Linked DNA regions of Homo sapiens: regions 1 and 2 are each linked to region 3. Evidence: fine-mapped expression QTL. A gene starts in region 3. Each other region holds a variant in brackets. All regions are shown on one strand. Distances are from middle to middle.

Region 1 (8,183 bases), 100 kb before region 3:
ATTCCAAAACCCAAAGGAACTGCAGAATCTTTCCCTGCCAGGGCCAAGAGGATATAACTTTTGGAACTTTACCATGTTGACTGGAAAGTCCTTGAGTTACTAGGACATGAGATGGGGGTACAGCCACCATGGAGAGGGTAAGCCAGTGCTTCCTGTGTGGCTGAAAGTGTGTGTAGAAATGGGACGCTGCTTAGAATTGATGTCCACACTCTTCCTTTTGCTCAATGTGCCTTTCTTCCTCTTCTTGCAAGCTAACAACTGAGAAGCATTTGTTCAGCATTTAAAAATACATTTGAGCACGTACTACGCACTAAGGATTGCTCTGGGCACTGGGGATTCTCCACAAAACACACCAGTATCAGTCCCCACCTCTGCAGCTCGTACAGTGATTCTCTTTTGAGCCGATACCTGGGGGAGGTGGTGATCAGGGGAAAAACTGTTTCTGACATCGTCAGAATCTATAACATCCCCAACTTATATGTCCCTTCTATTGTGAGAGTTGTCCACGTTTGAGGATTGGGCCCAAAGCAGGCTGCCATCAGGACTTTTTTGGCAGTTTCTATAGAGGCTGAGACTTCACAGGTAGCTGGGCTTGGGTATAAATCCTTGACTTGCTCAAGTCAAGTTACTTAACTTCACAAAGACATGATTTCCCCAGAGTGGCAATGCTTCATGAAGTGGTTTGGGATTTTAATAATAAAATGAAGGTAACCAGATGATCATGCAGGTATGACTCGCTGTGGGCACTAAACCCATGATGGACCCACAGAGGGCAGACAGATCCCCAGGGGGCTGGTCCCTCCTAGTTCCTGAGGCTGGAAGCCTGACAGAGCCAGGGCTAGGGGTTTTAGACCAAGCTGGGAATTTGGCAGAGGCCAGAAGCAAGCTCCTAATGGTGGAAGTTTAGGCACAGTCATCTGCTCAGGGCTCATTTTAAGACAGAACAGACTTTGGCTTCATCAAAGTCAACTGCAAGGTCTTGGGACAAGTTCAGAGTAAGAGCCTACAGGGCTTTGATAAGATTTCAAAGCAGGCCGGGTGCGGTGGCTCATGCCCGTAACCCCAGCACTTTGGGAGTCCAAGGCGGGCGGATCACGAGGTCAGGAGATCAAGACCGTCCTGGCTAACACGGTGAAACCCCGTCTCTACTAAAAATACAAAAAATTAGCCGGGCGTGGTGGCGGGTGCCTGTGGTCCCAGCTACTCGGGAGGCTGAGGCAGGAGAATGGCATGAACCAGGGAGGCGGAGTTGCAGTGAGCCAAGATTGCGCCACTGCACTCCAGCCTGGGCGACAGAGCAAGACTCCTTTTCAAAAAAATAAATAAATAAGATTTCAAAGCAAACCTATTAGGCACACAGAAAACAAGTAGCAGAGGCTGTCCTGACTGGGTGGTGAGGAGGTCCTCTCTAAAGGTGGTGGGAACACAGACAGATGAAACTCTTCCGGATGATAAGTGGGGAGTATTTATGGTCATAGGCAATACAGATTGTCATATAGGTTGACCCAATAAATCTCCTTCTAAGAATCTACTATAAGAAATAACAGGCTGGGGGTGGTGGCTCATGCCTGTAATCCAAGCACTTGGGAGTCTGAGGTGGGCGGATCGCTTGAAGTCAGGAGTTCGAGACCAGCCTGGCCAATATGGTGAAACCCCATCTCTATTAAAAATACAAAAAATTAGCCAGATGTGGTGGCGGGTGCCTGTAGTCACAGCTACCTGGGAGGCTGAGGCAGGAGAATTGCTTGAGCCCAGGAGAAGGAGGTTGCAGCAAGCCGAGATTTTGCCACTACACTCCAGCATTGGTGACAAAATGAGATTCCATCTCAAAAAAAAAAAAAAGAAAAAAACAAACAAAAAGAAATAACAAAGTGTCCAGGATATGTGTGTAGTGATGTTCATTGTGACTATTAATAATATTTAAAACTAGGAGTGGCATGTGCCCGGTGCCGAGCAATGCATTTTAGGATATGTATGCGTGGGATTCTCCACAGCTGGGTGCAATGACAATGCAGAACTGTATGCTCCAGAAGGATAATGAGAAGATCGGCTCATCCCAAATCCAGTAAAATGTCAGATAAGTATAAATCCTCAATGTGGGAAACTGCATTGGGTAGAAGTTCTGATGAATTTCTGAGAGAGAGAGAAAGTGGAAAGGATATGATCCATAAAGAAGCAGGGTAGAGGACCGCACAGCTCAGACACTGCTGGAGGTAAAAGCCTCACACATAGAAGCCATTGGGAATTCTGAAGCCAGAGGCCATGGATATAGAAAGCGAGGAAACTCCTGAGTAGCCTCAAGAAGCTGATCTGGGTAGGTGGATCTAACACCCCAGGCTGAGAGCTCTTTACTTCCCACCACCTTCTGCTGAGCAGAGAGAAGCGAAGGAAGAGGATCATACGGTCAACAGGGCAGTACAGCAGTGAGGCCAGCCAGGCTGGGTAGAGCACCAGAAATCCCGGCAGCTGGGAGTGAGAGGAAGGTACCTTCTTCATCTCAACCACCTCCAGCACCTCCATCACAACCCCTGCTGTAGGCTAAGATAAACTCAACAGGGATGACAAGGATTCTTAAGCACAGAGAGGAGCAAATCAGCACCAGAAAAGGCAGGCACTGACTCAACAAATGGAAATGACTTTCAAGGAAACAGAGCACACAGAATGCAATTTTAGCACACACACAAGTACTGTAAGTAATACCTTCGTATATGGTGTGTGTAGCCTTTCCAATACATGGGAAATTTCGTTATGTTCAAAAATGATACTTGGATTCAATTGTGATACTTGGATATAATTTTGGGAAAAAATAGATCCCTCTTTTCTGTCATTAATGTTTCTGGAAGTTCTTTATAAGAAAGAAAGAAATATAAAAACTAAAACTGCAGTTTATATGCATATGACATTTGTGAAAGGTTTTTTTTTTTTCCCTTAAAAACCTTTGTCTTCCATTACCTCTCTGAATACAACATAATTTACTACGGAATATGTATTCCTATTGCAATGCTTTCTTCCCGAGTAAGTATCTTTTCTTTTAGAAAGTCTCTTTTTTATTTAGTCTCTGTTTATTATTTAGGTGGACACATTTTCAAAAAACTCACAAAACTTATTAAGGAAAAGTGAAGGTTTTGATTACATAAAAATATTTTTAAAATTATCTGTGATAAAGGTACTACAAACAAAGTTAAAAGACATTTAAAAAACTAGGAGAAAAAATATACAAAGATTTAGTGCCAGACTATAGAAAGAAGTTCTAGAATCACTGTAGAAGACTCACTACATAGGGGCAAGGATGTGAGGAGGTTATTCACAGCAGTGGAGATGCTCTGGCCAATGTAAACATCACCAGTATTCAGGGAAATACAAACTAAAACAGCCATGAGATAATACTTTTCACCTATTAGGCTGGCAAACATTAAAGTTTGTAATGATTTCAAATGTTAGCAGGTGTGGGAAAACAGCTGTTCCAATTTCAGGAGAACACATCAGTACAGCTATTTAGAGAACAAACTGGTGTATTTATCAAAATAAAGAGTGTGCCCATGCTTTGAGTCAGCAGTTCCACTTCTCTGTGTCTGCTCCAGAGAAAGGGATGTGAGCTGGAGCCCTGGGAAGATGTTGACGGCAGCATTGTTTACTGGAGCAGGGAACGGCAGCAGCCAGAAGGGGATGCATGAGTGTGAGGGCTGATGGGGAAGGGGCTCTATTCATTTTTATGTTGTTTGAATCTTTTGCAATGTATTTGGGGACTCCAAAAAACCATTGGAAAGTTGAGAATAATAGATTGCAAGATGAACTCATTTTTATGAAAACAATTATGGATGTACATATATAAATATATATAATGCATACTGTAAAGAAAAACATCAAAACATGAGTGGTGTGAAGTAGGATCATAGTGAAGGGGAATTATAGGTATTTTCAATGTTTCTTGGCTTTGGTTCTTTTGATTTTCTAATTTTCCTACACAAACATAGAAAATTTCTGTAATATATGTTTTAAAAGGTGTCATCATCACCCAGGGATTGCCCGAATGACCTGGGTTGTCTGCGGAATACCATGACCTTGGGAGCGGTGGGTTCTGGGCCCAGCCTGCTCCACAAGGGAAGGGTAAGGACTGGGCTTGAGAGATGGGAGCTTGTGGGATCCTGCCCATAACCTGACTCAGGATCCCTGCCCATAATTCTGGGATCTGGCCGTCCCCCTCCTCCTTTCACAGGGGCTCTGGGTGGGGAACAAGGGCTTGTGTGTGATGGGGACTCCCCTTCAGGTTCTGCCAAAGTCCA[T/C]TGGAACTTTCCACATGGCTCTAAGGAGTCTATTAAGGACAGCAAAGGCCAAATGTGTTACCAGTGCCCCTTTCATCCTCCCTGTGAGGCAGGAAACTGAGGCTCAGGACCCAACTCCTTGCCTAACTGGCCGAGGCTGGAGGAAGCACAGGCCTCCCTGACCCCAGCCTTCCTGGAGATCAGAAACCACCATTGAAGCATCAATATTCTTTTTGGGGTTTTGAACTTAAAATATGACCAGTGTTATGGCTCCAGAAAACATCTCGAGAGCTTGAGCCCTCCGGGGCTTTTACGTGGACAGGCTGCATTAGAAATATTGGTGCTAGGATAATACATCCGCTTTTGTTTCCAGGATCAAAAATTACTGGAAACCAGAACCACATTCTAAGTGTCTGAGCCGGAACAGGAACTGATACCCCTATTAAACGGGTCACTGGGCACCACTGCTGTGAGAAGTGCTGGCCATCTGTGAAAATCTCGGTGGCTTCAGCAGCTAAGAAAAGAAAACCTTTAGGGATAAAAACTATAGAGAGCACATTTTTCTCATGAGCATTAGGGAAAATTAGAAGATACTGTGGCTGAATTAAAGTTGTGCCTGGGCCCTGGAGGTGTGGCCAACTGTGCTAAGCGTTGCTGATGAACATTCAGCTACTGTCAGCCCCGGAGTGCAGCTGCGGCATCAGCACATCCCGCTGAAAAACACAGGGCTGGGTGGACCAAAGGCCACTTCCGTGGTCCTTTGCCAAAAGGTGGAGCCCGAAAATTCCAGACCAAATGTAATGTCTTGACCTGGGAACTAATTTTGCAAACAGCAGCCAAAGTTTCCTAAAAGTGGAGGTTTTGGAAAGAAAGGCAGAGAGCGAGGGTCGGGGTGGGGGAGAGCCAAAGAAAGCAACCTGTTTAGTGTATGAGCAGTGAATAATGAGTTAAAGGATGGGGTCATTTCTGTAATCTTGATGAAGGGTCGGTCCTTGCCTCAAGTAACCACGGGGGTGGGGTTGCCCTTCCAACTCCACTCACACTGGTTGCTCAGTCACTGGGTGAGTCCCGCCCTTTCCTTCAGCTGCTCTGGATAACGGGTTGATAATTTTGTTCTACAGAGAGACTCAGCATGCTCCTCTAGCATCCCATCGTCTCTTCTGTGCATAAGCAGTGGAGACGCTAGGCACACACTTTCCTTCCCTTTGAAACCTTTCAGATATTTATATCCAATTTATGCAAATATTTACATCCCCCAATTCATAGTGAGAAGTGACCCAGAAAACAGGAGACATAAGAGCATGGTGGTTAGGGACATGGGCCAAACATTTGCAAGGGATCCGGGCAAGTGCCCTAGCCTCACTAGGCCTCTGCCTCCTAATCTGTAGAAAGGGACTATAGCTGAGGATGGGCACACCGCTGGAGCGATCACCCATGCAAAGCTGATGGAGCTGGGCTGTTTTTATAGTAATTATCATAGACTTTCCTCTTGATACAACTGTTGTACAAATTCCATTAGCCTTAATTTTTCAAATTTAAGAGCGATTAGGATTCAAGTAGTAATACTAGGATTCCTTCAAGACAAGGCAGTTCATGGCTGAACAAGGCAGTCCATGGCTGAACAGTGTGATAGTAAGCTGTTGTAGTCTGCTTATTTTATTTACAACCAGAGTAGTGGGTCAGGATGAAAGAGGGGATGTGGGGAGGGGACACTCAAAAGCGCAGGGCAGGAGAGAGATAGCCCCAGGGAACCGGGACTTGGCCAAGTCTCCCCAGGACCCAAGGCTGACCGCTGAGAGCCCAGGGGGCAAGAAGGGATGCTCACTGCCTCACACGAGCGGTGACCAGAGGCTGATGTTTAGACAATAACTTGGTAGTCCACCTCCTTCTCTCCCTCCCTCTGTGCCAGCCGCTGAGCTCGACACCAAGGTGCATGTGTACTCCCAGCATCTGAGTTCCCATCAGCGCGAAGTGGCTTATCTGAGAGGCAATGCCAGGAAGCAGCCAGAAGAGAATGGGGAAGTGAGCCTGGGGAGCAGAGGCAGAGAATCAAGGTGTGTGCTCCAGCAGGGGCCGCTGTGGACAACTTCAGCTCAGTCCTGGGAGGAACCCTGGAGAACCAGTGTGAGTGCACACACAGACACACATACACAGACACACACACAGAGACACACACGCAGATACACACACAAAGAGACACAGACACAAATAGACACACAGATACAGGCACACACACAGACACAGACACACATGCAGATACACAGAGAGACACAGACACAAATAGACACACAGATACTGACACACACACAGACACAGACACATACACAGAGACACACAGAGACACAGACACACATACACAGACACACAGACACAGATACACACACACAGACACACAGATACACACACAGAGACACACACACACACACACACCAGCACTGTTCCTCCTGGGGCAAGGGAGCTCAGGTCTGCACACACACTGGCAGAGTCTCTGGGTGAGGGGTGCTCCCGGCCTGTTGCTTGTGTGCACCTGCGTGTACATGCAGACCTGCTCTTCTGGGGAAAGCTTCCAGGCACGGAGAAGCAGGCTCTGCTGTGGAGGTGGGCAGGAGCCATCAGGACGGGCAGGAGGAATAAGGCAGGTGCCTCATCAAGGCCTCACTCTAACGGGCAAGAGGGAGAGGTGAACGCCAGAGGGTGAGTGGAGAGGTCCTAAAGAGACTGATGGTGAGTAGGGCCAGGAGCTTTCCTGAGGGAGGTGGCCAGGTGGGGACCCGGGGATGGAGAGGAGTCCGTGAGGGGTGGGGCAGCGCCCGGGGTAGGGGAACTGCAAATGCCTTGAGAGAGGATGAGGACATTTTCATCTTTCCTGAGCTTTTAAGGAGAGGCGTCACTGTCCCATCCATATTTTAAGATCCCTCTGGTCCCCAAGTGGAGCCTGAGATGGGAGGGGTCATGCAGGGTCTGGGCGGAATCGTGGTCTGGACTGGGACCACGGCTGAGGGGAGCGGCATGGGGTGGACTTGGGATGTATTTAGGAGTGACCTTGGCAGCTGCCTTGGCTGTGGGAGGTGACAGCGAGGAAGGCGCGGAGGGCAACCTCGAGTCCGCCCTAGCGACTGGCAGAAGGCACACACTGCCCTGAGACCCCCGACTCTGTCCTCCTCCGTCCTGGGCCTGCTCCTCCCATCACAGACACCCTCCCTGAACCCTCTCCCGCTCTCGGGCCCTCCAGGTGGCCCAGGGCGCCGGCGCCACTCTGTCTCCTTAAGGTGTCAGTTCTGTGCACAGGGTGACCCGGGCTCTGGGCGCCAGTCCTGATGGGGCCACACGTTTCTTGCTTCATCCCCAGCAAGCCCATGAGCTTGTCTTATTTTCGAAAGCAGTAAACAGTGACTCAGTGTCCAAGTAGTCAATGCCAAGCTCAGCAAAATAAAGTCTCAGTAAGATCAGAATTCCAACTTCCTGGAAATGCATCTCGGAGAAAGACCATCGCCGTGGCTCCGTCGTTCCTTCTAGCCCTCAAGACAGAGCCTGCTGCCCTGAGTTTATGCTTGCTGCTCACACAGATCTGCCTGGTTCTGCGGTGACAGAGCCCTCTGCTGTGGGTTCTCTGCCCCGCCTGCAGCTCTGCTGTGGGCCAGCTGTGATTCGTTTTGTGAGCAAAAGTTCCCTGAAAAACAAAATTGGGAGGAAAGAGACTTCATCCCAGTGAACAGTTTGCAAACTGGGGAGACACAGCCTTTGGTGTAAAAGAAAGTTATCTTCCCGGGGCTAAAGAGAGGGTTTGGGTTTTGTAGCAAAGGTCCCACACAAGATCCCAATCGGGTCGGTTGATGCACATAAAGGAGTCAAACTTGCTTAGTTCTGATTGGTCAATGCAGCTGAGTTCTGATTGGATACAGGTGAGCCGTGATTGGTCAG
Region 2 (8,183 bases), 41 kb before region 3:
CCCAGGCAGGGCTATGCCAAAGCCTATTTTGAAAACTTTTTTCCCCACCACAAATAACAAACAAACAAATCCCCCCAAACCCCAAGTTCCATGTTCCATCAATGATCAATGATCAGTTTTAACAAAGAAGAGAAAGGGGCCATCTCCACCTTGGCTTTGTTCTTTATCCATAAAATGATTTGATTTTTTTTTCTTTTTTTGCCAAGTCTTGCTTGAGCTCTTGTGAATTAAGTGTTCAGTGTTTTCACCATGCCAGAGCCTCTATACTCAAGAAAATGGGTCTTGATTCACAAGATGATAAACCAGTGGTGTTTTGTAAACCTGCATGCTTGAAGAGAACTACTAAATACTGATAGCATTAATTATGAATAACTGACAAAACTGTTGGTTCCTATCATTCAAGGTTTGTTTCCCCATCAATTAAAAAATTATAGATTTTTTCTTCTTATTCTAGAGAAGTAGATTTTTACAGTCAAGAATTTGAAAATACAGAAGAGTACTGAGACGTGAATAAAAATCTCCTATAACCCACCACAGAGCATGTTGATGTTAATAGCATTGTTTATATACAGACTTACACAATTAAACGGAATCATACAGAAAATGTCATAGAGCCTTAAAAGATCTTTATCATACAGTATTTTCTCGTGGCACACAATACTTTTTTCAAATGCAGGTTTTATGCATTCTACTGCATATGGCATCAAAGTTTATTTATTCCATCCCCTACCATAGTCCATGGTAGTTGTTTCCAAATTTTCATGATTCTATGTTAAACAGTGATAAACACTTTTGGATATTCATATTTGCAATTAACTCATTATCTTCTTAGGATAAATTCCTAGAATTGGAGTGGCTGGGAGGCAGTGTGTGCACATGTTAAAGGTTGGCAAGCCTTGTTGATGTTTGCCCTCCAGAAAGATTGCAGGAGTTCATTTTCCCACAGCAGTGCTGAGCGCCTGTTGCCCTGCCCAGCAGCACTGGGCATGTCTATTCTCATTGGCTTTAAAGATCAGAAACAGAAACAGTAATGTTTTGTGTTTCTTTATGAGATAATCAGTCAGATGCCACCACCAAGGAGACGTGAGAAAGACAAAGTTGACTACACGCACAGTTCCAGAGAGGAGGCCACCACATACAACTCAGGGCCACATTGGAAGCACCAAGCTTTGGTCAGATGGCAGAAGACAGGAGCTAGGGACAGCTTGGACCTCAGTCCTTATTTTGGTTTCGATGGAAAAGGCAAAACAGGGCAGTGTGAACAATTTAGAATTGGCCAATTGGAATAATTTTAGGGGGCTTTTGGTGGTCTCTAGTTGCCTGGTAGCTGGCCCTGGGCTTGTCAAGGTAGAGGAATATTGCCTTTTGAGATGTACAGGCCAGATAGAAGGGAATGGCTCTGGATGGGTTAGTTGGTGCATCAAAGGCATGCTCCCAGCTGAGTCTTCTGCTGTCTCTAAGAACTGGCTAACCCCAGAAGCCATCCTCAGCTAAAAAGTTTTTTTTTTTTTATATCAAATATCATACTCAACAGAAAATAAAAAATATATGCAAAACAGATAAGTAAACAAGTGAGACCTTTTTTTTATATCTGAACTGCAAATTTAAGAGCCTGCCTGGACAGGGGGCAAATCTCCATTCTCTGATGATTTCACATGCAGGGTTGACTATTCTTGAAACCATAAGGCTGAATTTTGTACCCTTTGAGTAGTTTTAGCTGTCAGTCAACATCCTCTGAGTAGATGATAAAAAAGGAAAGCACTTTTCCCCTGAAATTCATTGCAGGTCCTAGGTCTGGAACTGAAATCTCCCTGATGGTCACTGGTTATATTGTTTCTCTGGTTTGGGATACTTTGAAGAGGGCACCTGGAGAAGGGGACCAGGACAGGGCAGGTATGTAAGGGCTGGTGGTGGTCACTGAGGTATGTTTTAACTCTTGTTCTTCTTTCTCCATGCTTGGCTCTTTATATTTGCACATCAACAATCATAGACATGCTTTTTATCAAAAATGAGAGCATATTTGCTTGTGTTCTTGCTGAGGCTATAGGAGCAACAAGAGTTATTGGTCACACTTGGTTGGAGTTTAGATAACCTGAATCCCTACCCGGAACAGAAGTGCCTGCAGGCTGAAGAACTTCCTGAGGTGTCCATAGTGGGTCCCTTTTTGTCAATGGTGGGTAAAGCTTATACACAGTGGCACCAAATATTCTAAAGCCAGAGGTAAAAATCAGCCTCATCTCTTGGCTTCTAATAGCTCTCTCATTTTAATAACATTCACAGAGTCCCTACCATGTAGGAGTTTTATTCTGGAGAAGTGACAAAGTTTGTGGTTGAGATTTATAAACAAAGAGCCATATCTAACAGCTCCATCTATCCACCCACCCATCCACTGATCCATCCATCCATCCATCCATTCATCCATCTATTTATTAATTTATTCATCTGTTTATTGGATTTTTGCTATTGGTCAGCTAAGAAACAAACTCATCTTGTGTCAATTAAGATAAGTATAGTTGTGCTATGTAATTCACACTTAGTGAATTTAAACAACAGTTGATTTCATCTACATGTTACATGTTCAATACAGCTTACCTGGGGGGCTCTACTCCATGTCATTCTTACTCTGAGATTCAAGGTGATGGAAGGACTGCTACCTGGACATTGTAGGTCACTGTTGCAGAGGGAAGGAGAGCTCTGGAGGCAATTAAACTCTTTGGCCTGCAAGAGCAGATGCCATTTCCATCATGACCATTGTCCAGAGCCAGCACATGGCCCCATCTTCCTAGGGGACCAGGGTGGCCAATCCCTCCTTGAGCCTGGAGGTCAGGAATGGCAAGTATTTGCTGAACAGCGTCACTGACCACAGGTCTCCTCTCTGGTCTCAAGACAGATGGTTTCTAGTCACCTCGTGTTAAGATAGTTATTCACTTTGGTCAAGACAAGAGCTGCTCTTTGGTCTGGAGCTGCTGTTAGCGTGGGGAATTGGGCATGGTTTTTTAGAATGTGAATATAGATCTCAGGCCACAGTTTGGTAAACTTCACTGTTTGGAAAAAGTTTCCCTCTTACAGCTTAAATTTTTCTTTGCTACATATTTCAGATGAGGGAGATATAAAAGGGAAAAACAAGACATGCGCACATGTAATCCCAAAGCAAATACACCCAGAACCTCCCTCTCTTCTCTGTCCTGGTTTCATTTTTTATCTTCCTCCTTCCTTCTCAGTCCATGAGGCACTTGTTTCATTTTGGTCATTTTAATACTTGACTATTTCCTACATTAAAAAGAAAATGAGACTACCAATGGCAGAGACATTTTAAAACTACTTTTATTTTGAGTAAGTTTTTTGGCTCCTTGTCTTTTGAAAGCCTTGGCTTTGTTCTCGGTGCCTGCTGCTTTATTTCTTCAGACCTGGCCAAAGGAAATTCCCCTGCGCCACAAGGTATCTGCAAAATCTGCTGTCTTACGTGCTTGCAAAGGGCAGAGGGAGATCCACGGCCCACTTGCCATGTGGCCTCACATCGAGGGACGCCGTGTGATATGGCTTGGAGACATGCACTTGACGGCAGTGACAACAGCTCTCAGCCATGTCTGGCAGCCACTTACTTTCCCCAAGCACATCATATCATCACCTGGGAACAGCAGCTCGCCTCCTTGGGAACACAGGTTTGAGGTCTCATGGCTTCCCAGGGATAGGGGAAAAATGCAGCAGAAGGATTTGGGGCCAAAACCCATTTCTTCTCCCCAGAAGGACCACCTGGAGGTCTCTCATGGTCTTCGGCTCATCTTTGCAGCAGCACTAAC[C/T]AGCGTGGGCATACTCTGCTAGGACTTCTGCCTAAGGGAGAGAAGGGGTCTCTTACCTTGGTCACGCCCTTGCCTTGAGCACACGGGCGCCAAGCTTCAGAAGGGAGACAAACCCCACACGGCTATAATTAGGGGCTTTCTTAAGTCCCTGTCACGCATGATCAAGTGTGCCAGGATTCGGGATCATACTTCCTCCCAGGACTTCCAAGCTCTTGCGTGTGATCTTCTCTAAGTCTGGGGGCTGAGGAAAAGCCAGCCCTCCCCTCCCACCAGCACCCACCCAGTGCATCTCCACCCATAGCTCTCTCTCCCAGCCAGGTCTGGACCAGAGATGCCTCAAGACAGGCGACATTGGTGACATCAACGGGACCCCAGAGGGTCTTCATCTCACTCTCAGAAGCAGGCAGCATTCTGAAAATCACCCTCACGGGCCTGCCTCTGCTCCACAGGACACCCGATGGCCCGAGGAGCTCAGATTCACCTCTCCCACCAGGGTTCTCTGTTCCTTTAAAATCCCACCTTTCCTGTCCTTCTGATTCAGAGGAAGGAGTTCTCAGGACTGTGTCTCCTCCTCCACGGCCCTGGGATCTTTGCCTATAGAGCTCCTTCTCCTCCATCTGTGAGCAAACCTCCTCCCATAGGCAGAAACCACATCCACACACACAAACCCACACAACACACCAACATCACACAGACACCATGCACACTCATAAACCCACACACAACACACCAATATCACACAAACACATATAAACCCACACACAACACACTGACATTACACACACCAACATCACATACACATAAACCTACACAACACACTGACATCATACACACAGACACCACACACATAAACCCACACAACACACCAACATCACACACAGTCACCACACACACATAAACCCATACACAACACACCAAAATCAGACACACACATAAACCCACACACAACACACTGACATCACACACACTGACATGATGCACAAATATACACCCACACACAACACACTGACATCACACACACAGACACCACACACACATAAATGCACACACAACACACCAACATCACACATACACATATCAACCCACACACAACACACTGACATCACACACACCGACATCACACACATAAACCCACACACAACACACTGACATCACACACACAGACACCACACACACACACACAATCCCACACAAAACACACCATCAGACACAGACATCACACACACACACATAAACCCACACACAACACACTGATATCACACACACCAACATCACACACAAACATAGACCCACACACAACACACCAACATCACAAACACAGACACCACACACACACATAAATCCTTACACAACACGCTGACATCACACACACAGACACTATATACACACACAAACCCACACAACACACCGACATCACACACACAGACACTATGTACACAAACATCACCCACAGACACCAGATGCACACACCACACACACTCAAACTTCTCTCTTACACACACTCTTCCATCACACCCTCACAGAGTCATGACACATGAGCATACTACACACATATCACACAAATATTCACAGACACACAGACAACCCCCCCCACACACACAATGCACACACCACACAACTGTCTCCCCGGGCCCACACCCTGTCCATATACAGACCATGGAGAGCAAGAAGGGCTGAAGCTGGTCTTGCCCCTGCCTCCTGGAGGAGGAGGGTGCACCTGAAAACAGACCCAGCAAGAGATGGGAGCCCCGGGAGCAGCCCAACTCCAGGTCCTCTGCAGAAGTGTCCTAGCCGCCACCAGGCTGCCCTGCATGGCTCAGCAGTTTCCAGTGCCAGGCTGCAGGGAGGTGTGTGGGGCTGGAATGCGAAGGCAGCAGAAACCGCCCTGCTCACTCTGACGTCAAAGAAGGGAGGGAGCCATGGGCAGTTGTGGCAGCTGTGGTTCTATACCGGTCCCAGATCTCACTGCCCATCTGCTTCCCTGCACCCGTAGGGCCTGCTGAGCTGGGCAGGGCAGCCTGGTGGCAGCTGGGTCACTCCTGCAGAGGACCTGGAGTGGGGCTGCTCCCAGGGCTTCCATCTCTTGCTGGGTCTGGTTTCAGGTGCACCCTCCTGCTCCTGAGGGTCATCCTCTCTCTCTAGAGCCCTGCCCTGGGGTTCCCTCCTTCCCTACCTGGTTATCTCCTCCTTCCGGGGATCGCCCTTAATAAACACGTGCCCCCAGTCCTCATGTCAGGGTCTGCTTCAGGAGACACAGGATGCTCGGCAGGGTCTTCCATGGTGGGGACTCCCACAGCTTCTTTCTGGCTGCCCTGCCTTCAGGCTCTGCCAGTGGTGGCTCCCATTTCCCTCTCTCCCCTAAAGAAGAGCCTCCACCAGGTCCTGTTCTGGGCCTGTCACCCAGGGTCTTTGGCTCTGTCCTTGGTGGTTCAGGTTAAACGGTGGCCCCCTCAAAATTCAAATGTCAAAGTCTTCACATGCAGTACCTCAGCAAGTGACCTGATTTGGAGTTAGGGTCTGTGAGAGGTACTCAAGTAAAAGTGAAGTCACACGGGTGGGCCCTGATCCAGTAGGACTGGTGTCTTTACAGGAAGGGGAGATCTGGAGAGAGACAGGCACAAGGGGAAGGTGATATGGAGAGCCAGGGAGCAGATGGCTGTCCACCAGCCAAGGTGGGAGGCCTGCACTGGACCTGCCAGCCACCCTCAGGAAGAGCCAGGCTGTCCAGCACCTTGATCTCAGACTTGTGACCTCCAGCCCTATGCAAGAATAAACGTCTGTGGTTTAAGCTGCCCGGGGTGTGTTCCTTGGTGACATCAGCACCAGCAGACACCCAGTGAGAAAGGCTCTGCTTTGCCTGGGCCCTTGTGGTGTCCCTTTGGTGGGCAGAGACTTGCCTGTACCCGACAGAGCCACGTGCACCTGGGTGGGGTCACCTGGTGCTCACCAATCTCTTCACCTGGAACATCAGGCCTGGCAGATGGGACCACCCGAGCATAGACTCCACCTGCCAGCCTAACCTGCTGTGAGTTCTAAGAGAAGTCTTTTGGGCAGTTGACTTTTTTTTTACTTGCGAACCTGGAGATGGAATCAGCCTAGAGTACCTGCCTGAGGCCCTGGGAGACTCTGTGGAACCGAGCCCCACCCCTTCTCGGCCTAGGGGCGAGTGTGGCTGCTGAGCAGGCCCATCCAGGCTGATGGGATGGTGGGGCCTCAGGCAAGGAGGTGACCCTGGCTGTTCCCTAGTGAAATGTAATTCCTACCTTCCTCACAGGACCCAGGGCAGCTCAGAAAACCCCTCTGAGGAGGGAAACAGTATCCAAGGAAGTAGTGCTGTGTTCTTGCCCTCTTCGCTGGTACCTGCAGGGAAGTTCTCAACATTTCAGAGCCCTTGGAGCCTCCAGTGGCCTCCTGCTGTGGTGGGAAGAGCACGGACATGAGCCAGCCAGCCAGAGCTCCAATTCCAAACCCACTGCTTACCCACTTTAAACTAACCTCACCTCAGTTTCCCCACCTGAGTGATGGGGACGAGACTATTCCCCTCAGAGTTCAGTACAATGTGGGCACTCTATCAACGTGCTTGCCAATGTTCTAGAAAACAACAGTGGCTCTGGATAATTTGAGGAGGCAGCAAGGGTAGTGATAAGGACAAAACAAAACAAAACAAAACAAAACTGGCAGGGCCACAGAAGGAGAAGGGGAAATTTAGGTAAGAACTCAGAAAAGCATCAGAGTTAGCCAGAGAAAGTCCTTTGTGAGGGGGGCTCTGTTCCAAGAAGGCTGAGTAGGAACAGCTCCAGTCTGCCGCTCCCAGCATGATTGACAGAGAAGATGGGTAATTTCCACATTTCCAACTGAGGTACCTGGTTCATCTCATTGGGACTGGTTGGACAGTGGGTGCAGCCCACGGGGGGCAAGCTGAAGCAGGCCGGGTGTTGCCTCACCTGGGAAACACAAGGGGTTGGGTGATTTCCCTTTCCTAGCCAAGGGAAGCTGTGACAGATGGTACCTGGAAAAACAGTACACTCCCACCCAAATACTGCACTTTTCCCAAGGTCTTAGCAACCAACAGACAAGGAGATTCTCTCCCGTGCCTGACTTGGCAAGTCCCATGCCCACAGAGCCTTGCTCACTGCTAGCACAGCAGTCTGAGATTGAACTGTGAGGTGGCAGCTTGGCTGGGGGAGGGGCATCCACAATTGCTGAGACTTGAGCAGGTAAACAAAGTGGCCAGGAAGCTTGAACTGGGTAGAGCCCACCAGAGGTCAGGAAGGCCTACTGCCTCTAGGCTCCAGCTCTGTGGGCAGGGCATAGCTGAACAAAAGGCAGCAGAAACTTCTGCAGACTTAAACGTCCCAGTCTGACAGCTCTGAAGAGAGCAGT
Region 3 (8,183 bases):
AGGCTGGAGAGTGGACCCTGAGCCCTTCAGATAGGAGAATGACATCAGTGAGTGACACAGTGCAGCTGCAGGCGAGAAATACAGGGTGTTCCTAATGCCAGTGCTTCCTGTATGAGGAGGCACTTGCTTCCTGTAGGAGGAGGCACCAACAGATGCTGTTTGGTGGCACTTGGCACATAAAGAGATACTTCCCAAAGATAAAACCCTGGCCAGGAGCTTTAAGACTATAATAAAACTGTAAGATTGTTAAGTAGTCAAGATGAAAAATGATCTTTTCCTAGTATTTTTATGGTCCCTCAGAACGAGTGGGCCCCTGATAACACCGCTGCCTCCTGCTGCCCGGGCTGGGTCTTCATTGCCTCCTTGATGGAAACTCGGGTGTTGCTGTGGAATTGAGATGCTGTAAACACAGGATCCAGTGATGGCTTTCGGTGTGCATGCTGCCCTGTTGCCTTCCACTGTGTGAGTCAGGGCAGGTCTGTGACCCACATGCTGTGGTGGAAGGGACCTGGGCCTGTGGCTGTAGAAGGCCTGGCCACCTCCTACAGATAGAGCTCCTATTTGTGCTCTGGGAGTGCTGAGCTGCCATGTAATTAAAAAGTCCACATGGAGAGGCCACGAAGAGAGGCAGAGACCCTGAGATGACGCTGAGGGTCCTGGCTGAGTGCAGCCTCCTGGCCGTTCCCCAAAGCACTGGGCCTCTGAATGAGCCATGCTTGGTGTCTCACCCCATTTAAGCCCCCCTGTGACGACGCCACACAGTCACATCAAGCACAGCAGAAGGACCACACACTCAACCCATGGTAGGGAAGAAGAATAAACTGCTGTTTTAAGCCACTAAGTTTTGAGGTGGCTTACTTCACAGCAAGAAAAAATGGAGACTATTACAGATGAAACAAAGTCAAGCCTAGGGCCAAGTCGAGCATCATGGCCAGCACAATCACAGTCAGCCTAACTATCCTGCCTGTTCATGCTGGCTTAGGACATGTGACAGTTCCAACCCCCAGCAAGGGGCGGGTAAGTTCCTGGGTCAAACAAAAGGTGAGGTCAGGTCAGCAGGGGTCTAGGCAGGTAGCTCTCATGAGGGTAACGGATTTCCTCCACCCACCAGGATTCCGGCAGGCACAAAGGCCCAGGGCATGATCCCGCTGGGTAAGGAGTTTCAGGGGAGACCTCCAGAGGCCCAGCCTCCCTGGTCTTGGGAGGCCCCCACAGCAAGGGAGGGCCCTCTCTCATGCCCAGTGCCTAAGAAGCAAGGGTCAATTCCTAAGAGTTCTCAGTGGCCACTGCAGAGAGCAAGGCAGAGGCAGGGTGCCTGGAGTGTGTGTGAGATTCCTCCATGGTCAGCACCATCCTTTTTCTCTAACTGAGCAGCCTTCAAGAGTTGAGCCACAGGAAGCTTCAGGGCTGCCTCTGTCCTCCCTGGCCCCAGCAGGGAGTAGGGAAGACTCTGGCCTGACGGGGAGGAAAGGGCAGCAGCTTCTCTGCACCCCGTGAAGGATGTCTCTTTCACTGTGCAGAAAAGAGAGTGGTTTCACTGTGCTCTACTCACAGGAACGGGCCCCTCTTCCTCCTGGGGCAGCCTATGGGAAGAGGGGCAGGCACCTGCCACCCACTGGCTGTCATGGCACCAGAAGGTCACACTCCAGTGGCAGGAGAACGATGGGCACTGCCCCATCCCTCTCTTAGCTTCAAGGCCTGCCCTGGGTGTGAGGGGCAGTACACTGCTGATGGTGCTGGCCCAGTAGCATTGTGCATCCCATGCAGCCCAGCCCTGGCATACAAGCCTGGCACACAGGCACCAGACCTAGCTGCTTCTCCAGTCACCTGCTTGCCTGCTGTGGGGCCTCAGGGCACACTCTGCCCTCACCCATTTTAGGAGCTGCCTCTTCCTCAAAGCCTTCTGAGTCCTCCCCTTCCCTTATGGGTGAGCCCCTCCCTGCCCCTGAGATCTCTGGGGGCACCTGTGCGACTTCTTCCCGAGGTGCCCTATACAACCCCTTGCCTAGTAGATTCAGCTGTGTTTTCTCAGACACCACAAAAGGCTTGTGCATTCTCTCGGGAGCCAGCCCTGGCGGCCTGGCAGGAGGAGCTTGGAGCTCTGTGTGCTGAGGAATCTGGAGCTCGCCCAGGCTCAGGTGCAGGGTTCCATGACAGGCTAACCATGCCTGCTGGGGAGCAGGGGGCACAGCGGAGGGTCAGGCTTTGGGAATCCATGTCCCAGGCCATCGTCACAGCTACACAGCTTTCTTCTTTCCACTTCTCCCTCAGATTTTCTAGCCTTTAAATAGGGTTCCTACAGATGAAGAGAAATGTCCCAGATAGAAACCCCACTGCGGAAAGTGATCCCCTCCCTCTGGGAAATAGAATCTCTGAAGAGGATCTTAGGCAGGATGGCACGCTGTGAGTTCAATCAGCTTTCTCAAGTGTGGATCTCAGGTGAAAACCAGGCCAATTCTCACCACACATCAGGGTCTAGGCTCCGTTTCCTGGCAGTGAGTCAGAGGGGTGACCCGAGGCTAAAGGCAGGATGGCACCTGGTCTAAAAATGGCCATGGTTAATCCTCAGGGTAGCAGCAATGGCATTTTTTGAAGAGTCAGGCCAGGGTAAATAAACTCTTGAGATGTAAATGTTTAGTCTTCTTTATTTCTGCCCATCTTGAGCAGAGCCGGGCCCTAAGCTCTGAGCAGGTTTAAATTCGCACAAGTGATAGGTCCCCCCTGGAGATCCTGCATCCCAGGTGCACTCAGCCCTGGCCTACAGTTCTCCTACAAAAGGCTTGTTCCTAGAGGACATTCACACATCAGAGGGAGAGTTAAGCAACATCATTTATTTGACTCTTCACTCACTTAGCAAACTTCGACTGAGAGAAGAAATTGAGTTTGTTTGGGAGCTGGTCCCAGGGAGCAGGAGGAAGAGGAAGAGTCAGACAGGGAGGAGGCAACACAGGGTGTGTTTCTGGGCCTTTGAAAGCACGCAGATTGCCTCTCAGAATTGTCCCTCTGAAGGACGAGGCCATATGCACTAGCTCCTACCTTGGGGACACTGGTGCCCTCCCCCAAATACCCTTCAGGTGGTGCCTGCACTCAGGCTGAGGAGGAGGATGTCACGGTGTAGGTGCAGGGAAGGGTGCTATCAGGAAGCACAGCTGTGTCCACCACAGCTGGGGGCCACGGGCCTGCACCTCCACACAGGTGTTGGCTGCTGCAGCCTGGGATGGTCCTCTCTCTCCAGCCCCAGGTCCCTGTGGCTGGGCCATAGGAGTCGCTCAGAAGACTTCATCCCAAACTCACAACTACCATCCTCATCTGAACCTTTGGAAGTCATGAAAATGTGGAAGCACTGGCTGGAAGTTAGCAAGCAGGTTATTATCGAGGCAATGGCTTATGCCGTCTTCCTGGGACCTCCATGTGGAGGAAGCCGGGGCTGCAGCAAGACCTCTGTCTTCGCCCTCGCTGTGGGTCTTGGATCTCACCAGAGCAGGAATCCTTTCAGACCATGGTTTCCTGGCTTATTTGTTTTGTAAAAAATCTGCTAAAGAGGGACTAAGAAGATGTGAAAGCCACATCCACGTATTTTAAAAGTTGCACATATTTTAAAAGTTGCACATAGAACAGGGAGGAGCTTGTCCTGTGTATCCCAGAGGATAAAGCTAGGGACAAGGGTGCTCTGTGTGTGTATGTGTGTGTGTGTGTGTGTGTGTGTGTGTTGTTTTGTTTGTGGTTCTCTGTGTCATCCCCATAGGATTTGAGAATGAGGGGAAGTAAAGGAAAACAAAGGAACACTTTAGATTGTCCTCTTGAAAACTCATGGATTTCCAAGCACTGTGCTAGAAGCTGCCACATCAGCATCTTCTGGGAACTTGTTAGAAAGGGAAATTCTTGGGCCCACCTCAAACCCACTGATTCTCATACATGCTCAGGTATGAGAATCACTCTTCTAAATATAGGAAAAGATCTTTCTAACAGATATCATTGACCAAAGTTGCAGTGCCTTTCCTCATGAGGTGGTGAGTGCTACTCTTCTGGAAGCATTCAAGAGAAGGAGTAACCATTAGTCACGCATGTTGCAAAGGAAGTGAACACAACAGGTACAGAGTTCAACTGAAGTCACTTCCTTGGTTGCTCAGTATTTTAGCAAACATTTACTGACCAGCAGTACTGGGCACTGTTCACAGTGACAGGCGACAGGAATAGAAATCCACAGAAGCTCCCCGTTCTTGCCTGCTCCGAAGACTGAAGTCCAGCAGTCTCTCATGCTGTGGGCCCAGACACTGCTCTCTGTCTTGACTGCCAAACCCTGGCTGGCCAAGTGACGATTCACCATCCTTACAACATACTCCAGTCACTGAAGATTCCCCACGGAACCACCACCTTCCTGCTCAGGCCTCTTCATCTATCCAACAGGAGGAGGGGAAAGAGACCATTGACCCAGGACTGCCCTGGCGTGCATGAAGCCCTGAGTGAGGGCTGTGGCAACTTCCCGGCCTGCACACACTGCTGCTGCTTTCTTGGTGCCTATGAGTCATGCCTTGTCACCCGTGTGACATTAATCACTCAGTGGGACTCAGAAATCCAGCAGATGAATTCTGAAACTGAGTTGGGGAGGAGGCCAAATGTCTCATCGTGAGATGAGTCCCAGGGTACAGTCTCGGACAGATGAATATTCTAGATTACAAGGCTTAGCACTTTAACCAGAGAATAAATACAGACTGTGGTTGTTTCCATGTATTTAAAAAAAGTAAATTATGACACAAGTGATGCACATTTGTTCGGGGAAAGTTACAGTACAGATGGGCAAAACCAAAGAAAAAAGTGCATCAGTTCCCCTAAACTCCACCACCCAGAAACAATTGCTATTAACAGGAGGACGTGGTTTACTTCCAATGCTTTTCTGGGCACATATGTAAGTGTGTGTGTGTGGCAGTGCAACCGTGGAATCGCATTGTAAGACTTGACCCTAACACAGCTTTCCATTTAAAGTATATTGTGAATACGTTTCTACGTCAATACATTTAAATGATCAATTTTAAAGCTATCTAGCCCTCTACTGGCATCAATGCAAATTTTCCTCAGATTGTATCACGTTTAAAAAGTTTTTCTAAGATACACCACACACTCTCCTGCCTTCCCTTCCTGTTTTCTAATCCAAGTACAGAAACATGACATTGCTTGTTTCTAGGTGCCTTGGGGTCGCTGTTATTCAGTGAACCCCTCAGGATGTAAAGTTTCAATAAAGAAGCAGTTTGGTAGAGACAAAAGAGCTCCAGATTAGAAATCAGGATAGCTCTGGGCCCCTGTGCACTCAGGCTCCACATGGTTATGCACAGAACCTTCAGAACCTTCAGATTCATCACTAGCAGGATGGGTCCAGGGCGTGGGTCTTTGCTATGAGATCACCTTAGGTACCTCTGGAGGAGCTGGTCACACCAGTGATAACCCTTTGGAGAGGAGAAAGTCAATGGAGGAGGAGAAGACATGCCTCAGAATCACACCCCAGTTGTTGCTTGAAGTGTGGTCAAGGAGCTGCTTATCTCCACCCACACCTCCTCCTGGACACACAAAGGATATACATTCCTGGGCCCAGTTCAGCTCTTCCAAATTGGAACCTTTGTGGGTGAAGCACAAATAACATGCTTTTAAACAAGTACCCCTGAAGTTTGTCACAGAAAGTTGAGCTCATTGCTCCACTCCTAAAATGTCATTTCTCTTAAACATCTGAAACGGTTCTGCTCGGAGAGGCCACCTGTTGACCACTTGCTTGGCTGCTTGGCCTCGTAGGGCAGGGGGCAAGCAGGAGACAGAGGAAAGATCAGGATCGACATTTTTCTTCAGTGTTCCATAGGAAAACCATTCTTTTATGTTTCTCTTTGGCATTTGCAAATACACACCAAAGATTTGCCTCCTGTGAGTTGTTTTTTTTTTTTTTTTTTTGGCGGGGGGTGGGGGGTGGGTAGAATGTCCTTGCCCAGCCCCTTCCTCACTGATTCTTAACCCTTCCCTCTCCCCGGATCCATAGTGCGCTCAGATCCTGACCCTCTGAGACTGCCCAGCCCCGAGACCCGCCACGTCCCCGCAGAACAGTCCATGCAGCGAAAAGATGAGAAACGTGACTGTGAAGCATGGTGCCCTTGATTCGACTGCTTCATTCATTTCAGCAGATGTCACCAGGGCCCTGTAGGGAAGATTGTGCAGATCTGTGTGGTCTAAACAGACAACTTCATGTAGATTGCACTGGATTTATCTTGGCTCTGCCCAGAGGTGATTTGGCTCTGATAGGGAGCCTTCTCATGGAGTGGTTTTGGCCTCTGAGAAGTGGCAGAATTGCTGAGTTCAGCCTGATTGTCCAGGAAGAGCCACATCTTATAGATTCTAATATTTCCTCAAGATCTTGGAATAGCACTGCTATTCACCAACTGATGCTTACTTATTAATTAAACATCTGTTAAACTCTCGATAGGTGCCAGACAGTGTAGTAGGTGGCCATATATTAGAATGAATAAACAGCTGAATCATTGCAGATGAACTTTGTTGCACTTCAGATAATCAAAAACATAATTCAAACTTGTTTAGGAAAATATAATAAATTTCATATGTCGTTTAAATACATAATTAAATAGATAAGATAATAGCTATTCATTACTCACCAAAGATCTGTTTTTTATAAGCACATTTCTCATTTAAATCAAACCCCCCCATCTCTGTGAGAGCTGTTTTGATGAAAAACTTTCACAAACAAGTGGCACATTTCTCACATCTGCTTTCTTAAGCAAAGTGTTCTTGTCTGGAGTTTGATTTGATTTTCTCTGTTGTGCATTGTGCCGTGTTGGGCAAATGAACCATACAATTGCACACCCCACCAGGGTGCTCCCAGTGACCCTGCCTGGCCAGGCTTCAGGGCACTGTTTCAGCCCTTTCTCTGATTCACTGTTTCCATCAGTGCCCGTCTGGGAGCGGTTGCCATCCTGCGTGACACATACAGCACACGTGCTCTCTCTGTGAGTTCTCGCCTTCCATGCCAAGTCTGCAGACTGACTCCATCTCAACTCTGACCCTCATACCTCACGCCGTCACCCTGGATTGTCCTGCTGCAAAGCCTCCCTACTTGCATCCAGCATCCTCCTCCTGCAGTCCTTCCCCGCAGGCAGGCAGCAAGCTCTTTCTTTGAAAACCACCAGTCAGATGATTTCATGTTCCTGATTCAGACCCAGCAGCCTTGCTCCACAACACTGATAGAAGTCCTGACCTCCCTTTCCTGGCCTCTTACTGCCCGCTGTGGCTGCTCTAATTCCCTCTGCCATGGCTCACAAGACTGCAGCCGTGTCATTCTCCTTCTCTTTATTTGGACAAACCAAGCTTTTGCACAGGCTGCTTTCCCCACCAGGCTGGCTTCTTCTTGCCGTGTGGCTCTTTGTGGAAATGGGCCTTCCTGGGCCTTACCTCAGCCCGCCCGGTCATGCTCTGTCATTCATTCTCCCTGTTTTCATTCTCCACGTAACACTGACTTGGTCCTCTGGCCCATCAGTGCCCGCAGCCTGCCATCTGGCATCCTTGGCTCACTGAGTATGGAGAGCTTGTTGACTTGAGCAGCCCTGCAAGCTGGGGAGAATTGGGTTATCTAAGGGATGTAATTCTGTCCTAAAGGTTTAACTCTTTTCCACCAGCCAGCAGGGTTTCCCCAGCAGCCCACCGAGAGAGCTGCCTACACTTGTCCAGGAGTCTGGGCCTCCTGCCTCCTGCTAACCTGTATAGCTCCTGCTGAGAGAACATCTGGGAGCTGTGAGAGCTGCATCTTTCATGGAGTGCCAGGGAAGAGGGTGACATGGCAGAGGTTCCCAGGCAAGGCCAGGCTCTCCTTGGAGCCACAGCCATGCTAGAGTGGGTGCCAGACCTCCAAGCCCCGAGAGAGTGTATTTTCCGAAACCCTCCACACATCCCTCAGAGCATCTCAATGGATATCTGTTCTGTGGAGCCAGCTGTGGTCAGCACTGTTTTGAGGAAAGAGAACTGACATGGTGGCTGGGTCACTGTGCTTCCCAGCACATCTCCGGGTAGGTGGAGGCAGATAAGTGACCCACGCTACGTCGTCTAGAGCTGGTGTTGGCCGACTCGGGGAACCCAGGCAGGTGACTCTCACTGGAAAAGACATAGCTCACCTCACTTCTTGCCTGCAGCCCTGCAGA

What was found. PIP is the estimated chance that this variant, and not a neighbour inherited with it, causes the effect.
Region 1: its variant is fine-mapped to the expression of LINC03125 in pancreas (GTEx, PIP 0.98).
Region 2: its variant is fine-mapped to the expression of LINC03125 in unexposed skin (GTEx, PIP above 0.99). The same link has a PIP of 0.9 or more in aorta, lung, sun-exposed skin and tibial nerve.

What each region holds. Positions count from the first base shown.
Region 1 is chr20:23,243,978-23,252,160 of GRCh38, reverse strand. No RefSeq gene overlaps it. Among named protein-coding and RNA genes, the nearest start is that of LINC03125, 100 kb to the right of the region's middle. RefSeq lists a silencer at 6,155-6,449. The variant T/C (reference allele first, on the strand shown) is at 4,284.
Region 2 is chr20:23,185,431-23,193,613 of GRCh38, reverse strand. LINC03125 (long intergenic non-protein coding RNA 3125) reads right to left here. Exons shown (of 6, transcript NR_199692.1): 5 at 5,974-6,299; 6 at 3,307-3,831. Among named protein-coding and RNA genes, the nearest start is that of LINC03125, 41 kb to the right of the region's middle. The variant C/T (reference allele first, on the strand shown) is at 3,801.
Region 3 is chr20:23,144,385-23,152,567 of GRCh38, reverse strand. It overlaps LINC03125 (long intergenic non-protein coding RNA 3125), which reads right to left and starts at 4,465. Exons shown (of 6, transcript NR_199692.1): 1 at 4,154-4,465. RefSeq lists enhancers at 1,339-2,322, 3,817-5,016.